5 linked regions of the Homo sapiens genome follow. The protein of the gene in region 1 interacts with the protein of each later gene in a biochemical or structural test. Each region holds a gene or a part of one and is shown in the gene's direction. Other genes may lie near its edges. The genes, in order: CSNK2A2, FGF2, HDAC6, MGMT and ERCC6.

Region 1 (2,891 bases):
TCACAGTCGTTTCAATATAAACCCTTCCGAAAGCAAAAGCAGGGACCACATGAGCACACAAGAAGCCAAAGTTTGTCAGTGATCTTAATAAATTAAGACTGAGTAACATCCTGCCTTTAGAAAAAAATAACCCCGAGGTGGAGACCAGGGCAGGGGAGGTGGCGGAGAAGCATCGGGCCAGATCAACCGTTAATAACATGCTTCTGAGCTATGTGGATGTATAAATGAAAACACCCCCAACTAGGTATTGTAGAGGCTGGAAAAAGATGTGATGGGATTATACAGGTGATGCATATTTTTGTTTTGAGACTCAACAATGTGCTACAAATGTGATACTTAACCCTGAACTGCATGTATTGGGGATTGTTTTTTAAAAAGAAAAAAAACAACTTTGAATCAATAAATTAACAGTTTTTCACTTGCTGGCTCTTCTTGCTGTAAATGGTGACTAAGAGGTTGGGACAGAAATCTTGACAACTAGTGGAAAACTTGGATAATCTTCAAGGACCATGGAGCCTTCTGTTTCCTTCTGTTTGCAGAAAAGCAACACTGCCTGGGTTGTGATCCTTTACAAGTGACTACTTCAGACACAATTGGCCACCTCTTTGTATCACTGGATGACTGATGTATGATTTATGTGCTGCTGCCCTTAGAGGGAAGAAAAATGCCATGTTAAATCCTGTTTTCTTAAATAAAAATGTTGACAATAACCAGCCTTCCCAAGTGGGAGACAAACCATTGCTATGAGGACCTTAACTTGTATTTCCTGTCTCTTTGGGGGAGAGGGGAGGGATAAACCTTGAATTGCAAAGATGTGTGTTACACCTTGATGTGAAAACTTTCCTTTGGCAGAAGTGGGGCTAGAGTGGTGTCCTGTTGGGAGTGTTCCGTTTTTATGTACTTGCTTCTGAGTCGCGCCACTCAGACACCTGCCTCTTGGGATTGACTGTTTTAGTGCATGACTTTAACCTTGTGGCCTGGTGCTCTGCATTTGTGAAACACTCTCCCTAGCCCCATTCCTTGCAGCACATGCTATTATTTGGCAGGTGGTGGTATCTTTAATTAATGTGCTTTCTTTAATTAGTGTGCTTTCTTCTCACTGAGCCTCTGAAGTTGGGTGCTTGGAATCAGCTGAAGTGTTTAAAGGCAAATATAGTCATTTCTTTCTTAACCTCATGCACCATGCAGCCCTTCTCAAATCAAATACTACGCAGTGGAACCCTTCCTTTACCCAAAGAAAGTTTTCATGAAATGATTTTGTGTGTGTGACAGCTTCCCAGGTGCATAGTCCTTCCTCAGTACTGTAGTGCTGTTCTGGGAGGCACTGCTTCTAGAATTCCACTGCCGGCATCTCACCACCCACTTGCTATGCTGGACCTGGAAGGAGAAATGAGGTTTTCAGGCCATGCCAGGCAGCTAGCTGTTTCCAGGGGAGAGTTAAAAATATTTGAGCTCACTTACTGCTCTTTGTTTATTAGTGGACTCAGCCCTTTTTCTGAGTAAATACAGACCCCGTCTTAGTCCTAAGACACCTCAGATAATCAGGTCAGGTCTGAGGGGGACCTAGAGCTGACTGCTGAATTTGTAGCTTGACTGGCACAGAATGGTCAAGAGGCTCTGAGGCTTCTCCATCAGCACCCTGGACCCGAGGGATGGGGTAGAGTGGAAGACCTGGTCACAACACACGTGGTGCCCAGAGCACCCGTCCTGTGACAGAAGGCCGTGCTAGAGACCATCTCTGTCATGATAATCAGAAGAGGAAGGCAGAGGGTACTGTTGGAAACCTGAACTCAGCGAGTTCTCACAGGGTTCTCCACCAAGTGGCATGGGAGGGCCGAGCTTGCATTCTAGCACAGGCCCTCCTACACGTGGAGGCCTCCCCTCGCCCGCTCAGGTTGATTAATGACGTCTTTCCCTCCTCCCGTCTCTTTCCCCAGGTCTGTTGCGGTTCTCCCACTTTTCCATAAGCAGAACAAGAACCAAATCAAACGTCTTAACGCGTATAGAGAGATCACGTTCCGTGAGCAGACACAAAACGGTGGCAGGTTTGGCGAGCACGAACTAGACCAAGCGAAGGGCAGCCCACCACCGTATATCAAACCTCACTTCCGAATGTAAAAGGCTCACTTGCCTTTGGCTTCCTGTTGACTTCTTCCCGACCCAGAAAGCATGGGGAATGTGAAGGGTATGCAGAATGTTGTTGGTTACTGTTGCTCCCCGAGCCCCTCGACTCGTCCCGTGGCCGCCTGTTTTTCCAGCAAACCACGCTAACTAGCTGACCACAGACTCCACAGTGGGGGGACGGGCGCAGTATGTGGCATGGCGGCAGTTACATATTATTATTTTAAAAGTATATATTATTGAATAAAAGGTTTTAAAAGAAACGTATGGAGAGTTTTCAGTATGGAAAGGGCCGTGAACTGAGGCCTGTGACTCAGGATGAGACAAAAGCGCATTCGTGCCAGGTTCTAACCAGACGAAGCAGGGGAGGTCCCTGGGACAAGGTGGGCCAGTTTTCATTTTTGTTTTTAAACAGTCTTGCTCTGTCATGGAGGCTGGAGTGCAGTGGCGCAACCATAGCTCACTACAGCCTCGGCCTCCTGGCCTCAAGTGATCCTCCTGCTTCAGCCTCCTGAGTAGCTGGGATTACAGGTGCATGCCACCACACCTGACAAGTTTTCTTAAGTTTTTTTTTTGTAGAAATGGTCTTGCCACGTGGCCCAGGCTGGTCTCAAACTCCTGACTCAAGTGATCCTCTTTCCTAGTCCCCCTAAAGTGCTGGGTCTACATAGAGGTGTGAGCCACCACACTCAGCCAAGGAGGGCCCGTTTGTAAGGACTCTCTTCCAGAGCTGAGTGGTGTTAAGAGGTACACAGTGAACCAGTCCTAGG
Region 2 (3,144 bases), on another chromosome or scaffold:
CAGTTTGTCAATTTTAATCTTGTGGATACCTTTATACTCTTAGGGTATTATTTTATACAAAAGCCTTGAGGATTGCATTCTATTTTCTATATGACCCTCTTGATATTTAAAAAACACTATGGATAACAATTCTTCATTTACCTAGTATTATGAAAGAATGAAGGAGTTCAAACAAATGTGTTTCCCAGTTAACTAGGGTTTACTGTTTGAGCCAATATAAATGTTTAACTGTTTGTGATGGCAGTATTCCTAAAGTACATTGCATGTTTTCCTAAATACAGAGTTTAAATAATTTCAGTAATTCTTAGATGATTCAGCTTCATCATTAAGAATATCTTTTGTTTTATGTTGAGTTAGAAATGCCTTCATATAGACATAGTCTTTCAGACCTCTACTGTCAGTTTTCATTTCTAGCTGCTTTCAGGGTTTTATGAATTTTCAGGCAAAGCTTTAATTTACACTAAGCTTAGGAAGTATGGCTAATGCCAACGGCAGTTTTTTTCTTCTTAATTCCACATGACTGAGGCATATATGATCTCTGGGTAGGTGAGTTGTTGTGACAACCACAAGCACTTTTTTTTTTTTTAAAGAAAAAAAGGTAGTGAATTTTTAATCATCTGGACTTTAAGAAGGATTCTGGAGTATACTTAGGCCTGAAATTATATATATTTGGCTTGGAAATGTGTTTTTCTTCAATTACATCTACAAGTAAGTACAGCTGAAATTCAGAGGACCCATAAGAGTTCACATGAAAAAAATCAATTTATTTGAAAAGGCAAGATGCAGGAGAGAGGAAGCCTTGCAAACCTGCAGACTGCTTTTTGCCCAATATAGATTGGGTAAGGCTGCAAAACATAAGCTTAATTAGCTCACATGCTCTGCTCTCACGTGGCACCAGTGGATAGTGTGAGAGAATTAGGCTGTAGAACAAATGGCCTTCTCTTTCAGCATTCACACCACTACAAAATCATCTTTTATATCAACAGAAGAATAAGCATAAACTAAGCAAAAGGTCAATAAGTACCTGAAACCAAGATTGGCTAGAGATATATCTTAATGCAATCCATTTTCTGATGGATTGTTACGAGTTGGCTATATAATGTATGTATGGTATTTTGATTTGTGTAAAAGTTTTAAAAATCAAGCTTTAAGTACATGGACATTTTTAAATAAAATATTTAAAGACAATTTAGAAAATTGCCTTAATATCATTGTTGGCTAAATAGAATAGGGGACATGCATATTAAGGAAAAGGTCATGGAGAAATAATATTGGTATCAAACAAATACATTGATTTGTCATGATACACATTGAATTTGATCCAATAGTTTAAGGAATAGGTAGGAAAATTTGGTTTCTATTTTTCGATTTCCTGTAAATCAGTGACATAAATAATTCTTAGCTTATTTTATATTTCCTTGTCTTAAATACTGAGCTCAGTAAGTTGTGTTAGGGGATTATTTCTCAGTTGAGACTTTCTTATATGACATTTTACTATGTTTTGACTACCTGACTATTAAAAATAAATAGTAGATACAATTTTCATAAAGTGAAGAATTATATAATCACTGCTTTATAACTGACTTTATTATATTTATTTCAAAGTTCATTTAAAGGCTACTATTCATCCTCTGTGATGGAATGGTCAGGAATTTGTTTTCTCATAGTTTAATTCCAACAACAATATTAGTCGTATCCAAAATAACCTTTAATGCTAAACTTTACTGATGTATATCCAAAGCTTCTCATTTTCAGACAGATTAATCCAGAAGCAGTCATAAACAGAAGAATAGGTGGTATGTTCCTAATGATATTATTTCTACTAATGGAATAAACTGTAATATTAGAAATTATGCTGCTAATTATATCAGCTCTGAGGTAATTTCTGAAATGTTCAGACTCAGTCGGAACAAATTGGAAAATTTAAATTTTTATTCTTAGCTATAAAGCAAGAAAGTAAACACATTAATTTCCTCAACATTTTTAAGCCAATTAAAAATATAAAAGATACACACCAATATCTTCTTCAGGCTCTGACAGGCCTCCTGGAAACTTCCACATATTTTTCAACTGCAGTATAAAGTCAGAAAATAAAGTTAACATAACTTTCACTAACACACACATATGTAGATTTCACAAAATCCACCTATAATTGGTCAAAGTGGTTGAGAATATATTTTTTAGTAATTGCATGCAAAATTTTTCTAGCTTCCATCCTTTCTCCCTCGTTTCTTCTTTTTTTGGGGGAGCTGGTAACTGATGAAATCTTTTCCCACCTTTTCTCTTCAGGAAATATAAGTGGTTTTGTTTGGTTAACGTGATACATTCTGTATGAATGAAACATTGGAGGGAAACATCTACTGAATTTCTGTAATTTAAAATATTTTGCTGCTAGTTAACTATGAACAGATAGAAGAATCTTACAGATGCTGCTATAAATAAGTAGAAAATATAAATTTCATCACTAAAATATGCTATTTTAAAATCTATTTCCTATATTGTATTTCTAATCAGATGTATTACTCTTATTATTTCTATTGTATGTGTTAATGATTTTATGTAAAAATGTAATTGCTTTTCATGAGTAGTATGAATAAAATTGATTAGTTTGTGTTTTCTTGTCTCCCATTTCTTTGTGTCTTCTTGTCTATGAATTCTTTTTTCTTTTTTTTTGTTGGGGAGGGGCAGGTGGAAAGATCTGATCTTGGAATAGGGATAAATATAGAAAAATGGATTAAAAACAATTATGAGATGACATGGACAATATTCTTATGGCTGACATGATTACTTTTCTTCCTGTTAGAGTTCTATCTATCCATCACGTGATAAAAGAAAAGAATGAGAAATTATAACATACTCATAAGGGAGCTGTACCTTTGGCTAGTACCCTATATTCTTCATTCATAAAATAAGTTATGGTCCTTTTACTGGTTTGCTTTGTGACACACTCATTTCCTGGATGAATGCTTCTTAAAAGAATGTGTCATTTCTCAACTATGCTAGGTTGGAGACCAGTGGCATGGTTCCCAGAGTTTCCATAGACTGTTGATTATGTGGGTACAGAATTCAGGCTTTCAGTGTCTGGGCTAGGCTTGACATTAATTTATAAAGGATATTATGCTTTACTTTATTAATGTAGAAATA
Region 3 (3,691 bases), on another chromosome or scaffold:
GTGTAGGTGAAGCGAAGCAAAGGAAAGAGGGAGGGGTAGGAGATGGGGTCAGAGAGGTGATGGAGGACAGATTGTTTAGGGCCTTCTGGGCATGGGTAATACTTTGGCTTTTACTCAGAATGGGATGGGAGCCTCGAAGGGACATGAACTGATTAGGGTTTTAACCAGTGTCTAGCTGCTATGCACAGAAAGGACCGTTGAGGTGGCGAGGGTCGAAGCAGGGAGGCCGAGGAGATGCCGCCACAGCCCAGGCGGGAGGGTATGGTAATAGCAGTGGCAGTGGTGAGGAGAGGGTCACACACCAGAGCTGATGGGAGGCAGGACTGACACCACAGTTTTGGGGTAAGCAGCTGTGGAAGGGTGGATGGGGAGATGTGGAGAGAACAGATGTGGAGCTCCCCAGTGTCCTCATGCATCTGTGACTGTGACTCCATCTCCCCAGCTTCCCGGAAGGCCCTGAGCGGCTCCATGCCATCAAGGAGCAACTGATCCAGGAGGGCCTCCTAGATCGCTGCGTGTCCTTTCAGGTAAGGCCCCCAAGCCAACACTCTGGGTGAAGGGCAGGGAGCTGACCTGACCTGGGTGCAGCCCATGCCTTAACCCTTTACCCCACTTTATTCCTCATCTCTCCCCAGGCCCGGTTTGCTGAAAAGGAAGAGCTGATGTTGGTTCACAGGTGAAGGCTTGGGAGCCTTGTAGGGATGGGGAGGAGCCTGCCCTGGACAAACCAGGGCAAGCTAAACGCTTTGGGAAGCAATGTCATGGTCTCTGCAGCCAGCCTTGGGCAAGTCGCTGAGCCTTTCTGAATCTGTGTCATCGCCTGTAACAAGGGGACCAGTAAACATAAGTTCCTCAGGAGAGTTTGATGTGTGTCAGGTGCTTAGAACAGGGCCTGATATATAATCAGCCCATGATGAGCTATTACTGTTATCATGATCTGATTGTGTGAATAGATGGTGGATGTGTGGACAGAGTGATCGGGGTTCCCCCAGGGGCTTCCAGATTTAGAGGCCTAGTGCTATGTGGCTTGAGGAAAGCTAGCTTCCAGAGCAGGTATCTGAGCTGAACTTTAAGAGGAGAAAAAGAGTGAGTCAGATGAAGAGGGTGACTGAGGGAAGGGAAGAACAGACAGCTGAACCAGTGTGGCCAAAGGCCTGAAAGTAGGATTTGGTGTGGCTACTGCAGGGGAGCAGAGAACATTACCTGAACTGAGGCGGGCTAGGGAAGAAACAGAATGTGTCTTATATCCTGGCTATTCCTTCAGGTTGACAGTTGGGGGAGCCAAGCCCTAATTTGACCAGGGGGTTGGTGTATGGACAGCTCAGTTGGGGAAGAGACAGGGCCCTGAATCTCATCTCCCATCTGTGTCTAGCCTAGAATATATTGATCTGATGGAAACAACCCAGTACATGAATGAGGGAGAACTCCGTGTCCTAGCAGACACCTACGACTCAGTTTATCTGCATCCGGTATGGATGAGAACTCTGCGGGCAGGGAATGGTGGCAATCTTGGGGTCCCCATCCCTATGCCCACCCCACCCTGGGGGAAGCAGCTGAGTGGATAGGGCTGTTCTCTCCCTTACTCCCTTTCTGGCTCCCCACTGTCTCTCCAGAACTCATACTCCTGTGCCTGCCTGGCCTCAGGCTCTGTCCTCAGGCTGGTGGATGCGGTCCTGGGGGCTGAGATCCGGAATGGCATGGCCATCATTAGGTAGGACTCTACAGCATTTGACTTTTTACATTGTTTTAAAGTCCTTCCTTCAAGTGTAAAATGTATTGATATGGGTAATATATTCATGTGATTCAAGAATCCAAAGGTAAAAAAGAGAATATAATTAAAAATCTGTCTCCCATCCTTGTCACCCAGACACCTGCCTCCTCTCATGGGAGGTAGTCATTGGAACCACTGACTCATGTGTCCTCCCACAAAGTCTTATTCAAGAAATAAATACCATATTTCATTGATTCTAAGGTGTACATTTTTTCATATTTGTAACATCTTGAAATCCAGATGCATCTTACAAACAGTGACATCTCAGAATTCCATTGGCAGTATTTTCTGCTTCGTTTTTGGCATGTAAAATCATGGTACATCTTATCATCATTGGCATCCCAGAACTGATGAAATGCAAAAGCTTTCTCCTCCCTCCCCTGTTTTTAACCACAAATGGTAGTAACATGACATACTCCCTTCGTACCATCTTTTCACTTACACATCTTGGAAACCTTTCTCTAACAGTATGTATCTTGGAGCCCGGTAGAACACCATTGTGTAAATGCACTCTATGTTAATCAGTCCCCGACTAATGGGCATTTTGGTTCTCCCCAGTCATTTGCTGTTTTAAAAAAATGCTACAGCAAATATGCTAGTACCTTTATAAAAATAAAATTTTATTTTACACTAACATAAAATAAAAATGTTACTTCACCCTTTTTAAAACACAGGTTGTGGGCTAAGTTCCTGCAGCAGAATGACTGGGTATGAGAATGAATGCGTTGATCATTTTATTTTTATTTTTATTTATTTATTTATTTTGAGACGGAGTCTCGCTCTGTCACCAGGCTGGAGTGCAGTGATGCAATCTTGGCTCACTGCAACCTCTGCCTCCCAGGTTCAAGTGATTCTCCTGCCTCAGCCTCCCAAGTAGCTGGGACTACAGTCGCCCGCCACCACACCCAGCTAATTTTTTGTATTTTTAGTAGAGACGGGGTTTCACCGTGTTGGCCAGGATGGTCTTGATCTCTTGACCTCGTGGTCCACCCACCTCGGCCTCCCAAAGTGCTGGGATTACAGGCCTGAGCCACCGCACCCGGCCTTTATCATTTTAGTGAACATTTTCAAATCTCCTTTGGAGACAGAGGGGTAGATTGGCAGGGGGTGAGAGTTTGAGGGCCTCCATTACTCAGTTCCCGGCAGATTTTTAGGCATCAGCATTAAAGGAATTGGTGGTCCAGGATTAGAGAGCAGGGGACAGTCTGTCTCTGCAGAGGAGGACCCCTCACATACTCCAAGCTGTTATTTCCTTGTCTTGCCCAGGCCTCCTGGACATCACGCCCAGCACAGTCTTATGGATGGCTATTGCATGTTCAACCACGTGGCTGTGGCAGCCCGCTATGCTCAACAGAAACACCGCATCCGGAGGTCAGCAACAGAGGGCAGATGTGATGGGGGTGGCATGGGGTGGGGTGTCCTGGTCTGGGCTCTTCCCCCAGATTCACCTTGATCTCCTTGCACAGAGTCCCCTCTCTCTGCTGCTCCTAGGGTCCTTATCGTAGATTGGGATGTGCACCACGGTCAAGGAACACAGTTCACCTTCGACCAGGACCCCAGGTATACCCCGACTCCCACCTAGGTGCTAGACTCCCAGCCACCTCCCACCCTTACAGGCCCAGCCAGAAGGGGTCCAGAAGGAGGAAAAGGCATTCACATTCATGGGGCCTATCCTGGGATCAGGATCTGTGCTACTTTTGTGTGTCTGCCATCTCTCCTAATTTCACTCTGAGGCAGGGACTGTTGGGTTCCCTATTTTACAGATAGGGGGACTGAGGCTTATACGTTAAGAGGTCACACAGAGAAGAACTGGGAGAGACGGGATTTGACCCACAAATATTTGAAGATCTTATTCACTGATTAACCGTTGGGTTAGAGTGAACCTCAAATTACTGCTTTATTTTTTCTGATTAGGATAAT
Region 4 (3,691 bases), on another chromosome or scaffold:
AAAGGATTTATATGGGAGGGAGGAGGTTTGAGCTGTGCAGGAGGGTCCTTGGTTGGCATGAGGATTTTGTGAACCTACGCTGTTAGCTCTGCAGGCCTGTCTTGGACATAGGTAAGTAGAAGTTGGAGACCTTGTGTTGTGGACCAAATGTTGCAAGATGTGTGTTCTGTGGCTTTTCATTAACTGCTGCATATCTGCTGGTTGGTGGACATAGTCTAGTTTTCTTTTGACTTAAAAAAATTAACAGTACAGCTTATATCGGAGGGCTGCATAGTTTGGGGGAAACTAATGAATATAGTATGGAATGTAATGAATGACTGACTTCTTCATAGAGCTATTGAAGTGATTTATGAAGAGGAAGAAATCATTTTTGTGACTTTGTTGATCTTTGAAGTATTAGAGTGGCTTTGGCAGGTGTGGATCACCCGGAAAGGAATCAAACACTGAGTCCTGCCAAGGTGCTCGGTCCCGGCAGCAAAGCCAGTCCTCAGCAGCCTGCGCTCCCGAAGCTCCTCCAGCTAAGTAACTGAATAGGCCGCCCTGGGAGCTGCCCATGCGGATGCTCTGAATGGTGAAACTTGGTTTTGACACCACAAGTTGTTTTCAGTTAAATCAGTGGCTCAGCAGCAGAGCAGGGTTCTCCAAGGAGGCCTCGTGTCCCCTTCACCCCACCTGGAGGTAGCTGTTCTAAAACCAGTAAAAAATTCTACAAAAACATTTTCTTAGGGTTGTTAAATTAGTCATAGTGTGTGTAACCATGAAAGGAATGGTGAGAGTGCAATAAATGCCTGGTGTGTTCACTCTCCTACTCCTAAAAGTTTCTTGGTAGAATAATTTCCTACCTGTGATGCTTGCGAAGTCAGCAGAGGCTCCCACCCAGCCCTGCCGCCCATTCCCAGAAGTCTGGGCTGGGGGACACCGAATGGATAGTCCACCAGCGGCGTGGCTTGTGAAAGGAGGTACTTGTTAAATCTATGTGTTTTTATTATAGACATCGTTCTGCCAGTCGCAATAATGTGTTTATGGACATTTTTCTGCAAGCACAGCGCGGGTGGCAGTTTTTACTGACAAATTGAGTCATATGCATAGAGGTTTAGAAAGCGCTTGCCTTATTGACGGATCAGGCAATTCTGGCACGGGATGTTCAGAGATATTTAGGTGGGTGAAGAGAGTGAATGAATCTCAGGGCAGAGAAGGAGATGGGGCATTATATGTTGAAATGCAATAAATAATCGCTAGTTATTTATCATTTGTTTTTAAACTTTTAGCTACATTGTACTTCCCAGTCAAGAGGACTCCGGTGGGCAGCCGGGGATATCATGTTCAGGTGTCTCTCCTGCTTGTGTGGGGTAAGAGCCACTACTGGAATGCGATTCCAGCAAGGCCTGACGAGTCACAGCCCCTTGAACCTGTTGCTCTCCGTAAAGTGGGATCTTCACAGGCAACAGTGGAGGAGCGTTTGAGGGTGACCTGGGCCCTCTGCATCAGAATTACTGTGGGTGCTGGCTAGAGAGGTCTCTCGATTGCAGGGCCCCATGGGAGACCTACAGGACCAGAACCTGGGGATGCCAGGGGATTCTGGCAGACCCTAATGCTTGAGCACCTCTAGGGAAGGCCTTAGGATCCTCTGGGAAGTAGCACTCTCCAGCCCAGGCAAGATCCGAGTCCCCCTTCCAGAAGTATCCATCGGCAGTTGGCATTGCTGCAGGTTTTCTGTGCATATGGGTCTGAGTACGGTTTTGTAACTCCTGAGAGACGTGAATCTCTTCAAATTGCAAACCCAACATGTTATTATTGCTTTTGAGTTTTCAGTTTTGTGGTTATGACAAGATGCAGATGTTACCAAAACTTTGGCGTCAGTTTTACAAACACACGCGAAGCACGGGCAACCCGTATCATATTTCACCCCTTCTTTCCTTTTGAGAGGGTTGTCTTGTTTTTAATCCCCCTCTGGGTCAAGGCATTTTCCTGGTCTCAGGTGAGGGTGCACTTTCAGAGGCACAGCTGAATACATTTTGTGGGACTGAATTGAGCTTTTCTACAGGAAGTGCCAGGCCGTGTGTGGGAGTGATGCTGTTTCCTAGCTGGGTCCCCCTGGGCAACTCTTAGCCCTCCAGGCACCTCCTCATCCATTGGGTGGGGACGATTATGCTTATTCGGTCTACCCGGGTAAGTATAGGCACACGAGACAGTAAATACATATTTTTTTAAAAGTAAAATTTCTATCCACTACATGGATAGAAATTTTAATTTGGAGCTGAGTCTCACGGAAGGATGAAACGAGAAGACGGCGAAGAACCATTTCGAGCCCTCGTTTTCCCCCCAGTCCAATCCGAATCTGTATTTTGCAGATCTGCACACACCCAAGCCCTCACTGGGGGCATGTGCACGGTGGTCAGAAGTGCACCTTCTGGGAACAGATGGGCTTCCGTTTGGACCTGCTTTACAAGTTACAATCCTGTGCCCTTGAGCAGAGTTACTTAACCTTCCAAGGCCAGATTTCTCCAAAAGCAGGGCCAGGGACAGTTCCCATCCAGAAGGAGGCCTGGCGCTGGGGAGGCCTGAATGAAGGCGGTTGGTGTTTGCGGATGCAGAGTCGCTCTGTTTTGGTGGAGGCAGGACTGGAGGTCGGGATCACTTGGCCACATTTGCCACCTCTGGTGCGTCTGAGGTCACAGTGCATTGTCTGTGTGCAGCATAAGGTAGTTCCCTATTCATTTACTAGGTCCCTGAAGTCCTTTTGTCTGTAAAGAGGCTACTGGCTCTGCCACCTGCTTCTGTCTTTTCACAGTAGACATTCTCGACGTGGCAGCATTCTAAAGGTTCAGGTGTGCCACATCGGCCTAGAGTGGGCAGGTGGGCTTCATGTGTGCTCCTAGGGGCACTTGGCAGTTGCTGATAGCCCGAGACACTGGGAGCCTTGACATTATTCATCTGTTATATTGAAAGAACTTCCCAAAGGACGGACACAGGATCTGACACGATGGCAGTGGCCAGGAACCAGCAGTGACACCAGCATGTGACAGTATTTTCCCATGTGTGACGGCCGTTTAGATCACAGCAGTGAGGGGTAACGCAGGTCCGCTGGGTAAACTTGGTCAAAAATGGGAAGTCTGCAGCATTTCGTGTGTTTGTGGAAATGGGCCTTATTTTTATTTGGGGTGTCTCCTTAATCTCCTGTCATGGTTCAGCTCACCCTGGTGGTTATTCTGGGCGTGCTGCGCTTGTTGCCTTGTACAGACCAACTTAGGAAAGGCTCACCACCACCCCATGAAGGAGAAGGCGCTGTGAGTGTCTTTATTTTGCATATGAGGAACCCGGGCCTCGGAGAGTTTGAGTGACTTGCACAGGTCTCCTGGGATAGAGGTAGAGTTTTGTTTTCAACCCAGATTTATTTGATAACCAAGTGCAGGCTCATAACCACTTGTGCCAGGCTGGCTTTGCAACGATGAGCCTGAGAAGCTGTTAGAAGTCCTTTAAGGGGCAAGACAGGGTGTAAACAGACACAGACCTGTTTATGTAGCTAATGTTTTCTGAACATCAATGTGACCAAGTGTTGTCTTTAGCATTGTGGGAAAAGCAATTCGCCCAAGTGTATTCCTGCTTGAAGGCGTTGAGCCGTAGCTGAGGCTGGGTGCAGTGAGGACTTGGGGATGGCAAAGCTGTCCCTGCGTGTGCCTTGTGCCTACCC
Region 5 (3,691 bases), on another chromosome or scaffold:
TTGTGCACTTTCAGATGTATGTTTTATTTCAGTGCAAGTTTAATGAAAAACTGGGTATCATTGGCCTGCAAGAATTGTAGATTTTAGAATATGGATTCCTTCCTATTAAGCCTTAGGTCTTTTGGTATTTTGGTTATGTGGTAATTTTGCCAGAGATGAATTTCAACTAATGAAAGAGGGATACTTTCTGGTGACTTTACACTTATGGTGTAATGTCTTCAAGTCAGTTAACTTCACATATCTAACACAGTGCTGCTGTCCAATAGACCTTTTTGCAGTGATGAAAATGTTCTCTGTGTTGCCCATTATAGTAGCCATTAGTCACGTGTAGCTCTTGAGCACTTGAAAAAGGGCAAATGCAACTGTGGAACTGAGTTTTTAACTTAATGTAATTTAAATTTAAATAGCTGCAGGTGACTGGTAACTGCCATGCTGGGCAGCATAGAGCTGACATTTATGTTTTTCCTTTTTAGGTACATGGTGATCCCTGTTTTTGGTTTTACTGTCTCTTGAATTTAAGTCCATCTGAATGTTGGTTTTAGCAATGACGTGAGAACTTCGGAGCTTGCTTCCTCATGGACGACTACTCAGCTGATAAGGAAACACAGCTAAACTTGACTATTTATAACTGTATTTATACAGTAATAAGCCTATCTTTGGATGGCAGAGAGTATATTTATAGTGAAATATTTTGGGGAAAAGTTACTGAGAAGTTGTCTTTTTGAACAGGAATATATTAAATATAGCATGATGCTATAATTTTATTCTGTCCTTCATATGTAACATGCTTTAGTACATGGATGATTCTTTTTTTATATGAGTTATTTGTAGCTGCCTAATATTTCTTGAAAGAGTGAGCATTTCTTTTGTACCCTCGGAAAGTTTCATGCTAGTGCGAAACGCATTGCTATTGTTCTTTCAGAGCCGGGGCCATCCAGTCTTGGCAGCATGCTCATGCCTGTCCAGGAGACTGCCTGGGAAGAGCTCATCCGCACTGGCCAGATGACACCTTTTGGTACCCAGATCCCTCAGAAACAGGAGAAAAAGCCCAGAAAAATCATGCTTAATGAAGCATCAGGCTTCGAAAAGTATTTGGCAGATCAAGCAAAACTGTCTTTTGAAAGGAAGAAGCAAGGTTGTAATAAAAGAGCAGCTAGAAAAGCTCCAGCCCCAGTCACGCCTCCAGCCCCAGTGCAAAATAAAAACAAACCAAACAAGAAAGCCAGAGTTCTGTCCAAAAAAGAGGAGCGTTTGAAAAAGCACATCAAGAAACTCCAGAAGAGGGCTTTGCAGTTCCAGGGGAAAGTGGGATTGCCAAAGGCAAGGAGACCTTGGGAGTCAGACATGAGGCCAGAGGCAGAGGGAGACTCTGAGGGTGAAGAGTCTGAGTATTTCCCCACAGAGGAGGAGGAAGAGGAGGAAGATGACGAGGTGGAGGGGGCAGAGGCGGACCTGTCTGGAGATGGTACTGACTATGAGCTGAAGCCTCTGCCCAAGGGCGGGAAACGGCAGAAGAAAGTGCCAGTGCAGGAGATTGATGATGACTTTTTCCCAAGTTCTGGGGAAGAAGCTGAAGCTGCTTCTGTAGGAGAAGGAGGAGGAGGAGGTCGGAAAGTGGGAAGATACCGAGATGATGGAGATGAAGATTATTATAAGCAGCGGTTAAGGTCGGTCTGTGGGGATTATAAATACATTGTACTGTTTGCTTTATCTTAGGTGACAGGTTTATTAATATGTAAGCATTCTAGATCCAGCTTAATATATTAGACCCCCCCGATTATACAGAGGTTGGATTTCTGCAGCCTTAACCTGCTAGAAGCAGTGGGGCCCCTGAGTCCTTAATGATGCTGGCCCCAAATGCATGTACTTCTAGGTCTTTAGTTGGATTTGGAGGCAAGTCTAAGATGAAAAACTTAAGGGAAGGCTGGGGCAAGAGGCATACAGAGGGCTGAGTGTGAGCTGTGTCGCCTTTATACCGACAGTCACCCTAGAATGAGTATCAGGAAAAAGAAAAGGGTGAATTAATGCATACTGGATAGGGGTTTCTGTTTTCCCTTTTGAAGCAGGAAAGTAATTTTAGAGAACTTTTCTTCAAAAAAGAGCTGAAACTTAAGCTTTGGCATAGAAAGAATAAGCTTGCTTTTGTAAATCCTTCCTTTGTCTTGAGAAAATAGTCATCTGCATAATTATAAGCCACCATCATGCAAAAAGTGTACTTTGTATGCACAGCATACCTTTCTTTTCACTGTTGTTTTTTATGTTAGAGACTGACTTTGGCTTTTAGCTCCATGACATTGTCATTGTATAAAGCAAGCACCATAAAAGGGAAGGTGAACATGTGAAACATGAAGTCTGAATTGCATATTGCCACACGTTTTCTGAGAGCCAGGAAAAATAATCTGTATTGCAGGCCTCCCCATGGTGGCCCACTGAACACTGTGCTACTGCCGCGCATTTCAAGTCTCCTTGACTTAGAGCTCACTTAGCTCTAAGGAAGTCAAAGGGAAAAAGGAACCTTATTACTTTTAAAATACTTGATAGTGGGATGGCTTTTTCCCAATCCTCAACAGTTTTTTCTTATTTCTCAAGGTGAAGAGACCTAGTTTGTTGTATTTATTGGCCTTTGTGAGTGAAGGTTGACCTGGTGTTTTTTCTTGTTACTTAGAACTGCTCATTAACCCCCGTCCAGACACTACAGACATTCCATAACCTTTCCGAAATAGATGTGTCAATTCTTTTAAACAGTAATTTGAGGACCTGTGACTTAAATCCTGTTCTTTAGAGTTGCGGCACTCACATTCTAGTAGCACCTTATGTAGTAATGCACAGATGAGGGCTGGCTTATATTTGTCATCCCTCAGCACAGCTTTCGTTTCTGTGCACGTTTATTACCTGTGAAGTTGTTTGAGGAATGTTGCCCAGTACTCTTGAACAGTGAGCGGTGTCAGACTTTTTCTTAACTACTGCAAGGAATTAATAAAAGTGTTAATCTCAACATATTGATTATAAATGGAGCAATATATATTTTTCCAATTAAATTGGGTCAATATTAAATATGTTTAAAATATATCAGTATTTTGATCAAGAGCAATTTATTTTGATTGAATTTTAAATGTGGGTTTAGTTAATTTGATGGCAATAAGTTTTTCTTAATAATGTTAAGATTGTAAAACAATTTATTATTTCCAGAGCCAATATTTTGCTAAAGCTACAGTGAAATCTCAAATGAATTTCAGAAATATCAATAACTCTTAATTGCCACCAAAATACGATAGCTCTTAACATTTTATAGCTACAGTTATTAAGGCTGTTAAACTGCAGATATCCACATTGAAATATTTGTTATTACATCTCCTTTGGTGCTGTTTGGTTTGGGGGATGAAAGAAAATAAAATGCTCAGGATTGAGAAGCATATTAGAACTGCCAGTCTCTCTATATTTTGTTACTCATTGCTGATCTTTGTAGACTAATTGAAATGGTAATGCTATTCCCTTGAGAAACAGAAAGACCTTTAGGGTTGCTTGTCTTAGCAGTGGTTTGACGATGGATGATTAGAATAAAGTCATAGAGTTTACAACATAGAAAATTAGTTTTTTTTTAGTGGTTAGAATTTAGGAGTAGTTCCCAGGGTAGGCACCCTTTGCTGAACTTAACACCTTTTACTGAGGGTATAGCCTGTTAATTATAATG

What was found.
Region 2: the proteins of CSNK2A2 (region 1) and FGF2 form a complex in vitro, tested with the Homo sapiens proteins (one study listed by BioGRID).
Region 3: the proteins of CSNK2A2 (region 1) and HDAC6 form a complex in vitro, tested with the Homo sapiens proteins (one study listed by BioGRID).
Region 4: of the proteins of CSNK2A2 (region 1) and MGMT, one has a biochemical effect on the other in vitro, tested with the Homo sapiens proteins (one study listed by BioGRID).
Region 5: the proteins of CSNK2A2 (region 1) and ERCC6 form a complex in vitro, tested with the Homo sapiens proteins (one large-scale study listed by BioGRID).

What each region holds. Positions count from the first base shown.
Region 1 is NC_000016.10:58,157,400-58,160,290, reverse strand, and holds the end of CSNK2A2 (casein kinase II subunit alpha'), read left to right. Parts: exon of another isoform or gene 1-1,937; 3' UTR 1,938-2,384; downstream 2,385-2,891.
Region 2 is NC_000004.12:122,895,609-122,898,752, forward strand, and holds the end of FGF2 (fibroblast growth factor 2 isoform 18 kDa), read left to right. Parts: 3' UTR 1-2,015; coding exon of another isoform or gene 2,016-2,070; 3' UTR 2,071-2,628; downstream 2,629-3,144. Other genes in the region: NUDT6 (nucleoside diphosphate-linked moiety X motif 6), read right to left, coding at 2,016-2,070. UniProt on the Homo sapiens protein: Acts as a ligand for FGFR1, FGFR2, FGFR3 and FGFR4. Also acts as an integrin ligand which is required for FGF2 signaling. Binds to integrin ITGAV:ITGB3.
Region 3 is NC_000023.11:48,804,996-48,808,686, forward strand, and holds part of HDAC6 (protein deacetylase HDAC6), read left to right. Parts: intron 1-442; coding exon 443-527; intron 528-635; coding exon 636-676; coding exon of another isoform or gene 677-680; exon of another isoform or gene 681-1,372; coding exon 1,373-1,469; exon of another isoform or gene 1,470-1,613; coding exon 1,614-1,711; exon of another isoform or gene 1,712-1,965; intron 1,966-3,037; coding exon 3,038-3,142; intron 3,143-3,262; coding exon 3,263-3,331; intron 3,332-3,691.
Region 4 is NC_000010.11:129,470,159-129,473,849, forward strand, and holds part of MGMT (methylated-DNA--protein-cysteine methyltransferase), read left to right. Parts: intron 1-3,691. UniProt on the Homo sapiens protein: Involved in the cellular defense against the biological effects of O6-methylguanine (O6-MeG) and O4-methylthymine (O4-MeT) in DNA. Repairs the methylated nucleobase in DNA by stoichiometrically transferring the methyl group to a cysteine residue in the enzyme.
Region 5 is NC_000010.11:49,522,009-49,525,699, reverse strand, and holds part of ERCC6 (DNA excision repair protein ERCC-6), read left to right. Parts: intron 1-922; coding exon 923-1,667; intron 1,668-3,691. UniProt on the Homo sapiens protein: Involved in repair of DNA damage following UV irradiation, acting either in the absence of ERCC6 or synergistically with ERCC6. Involved in the regulation of gene expression.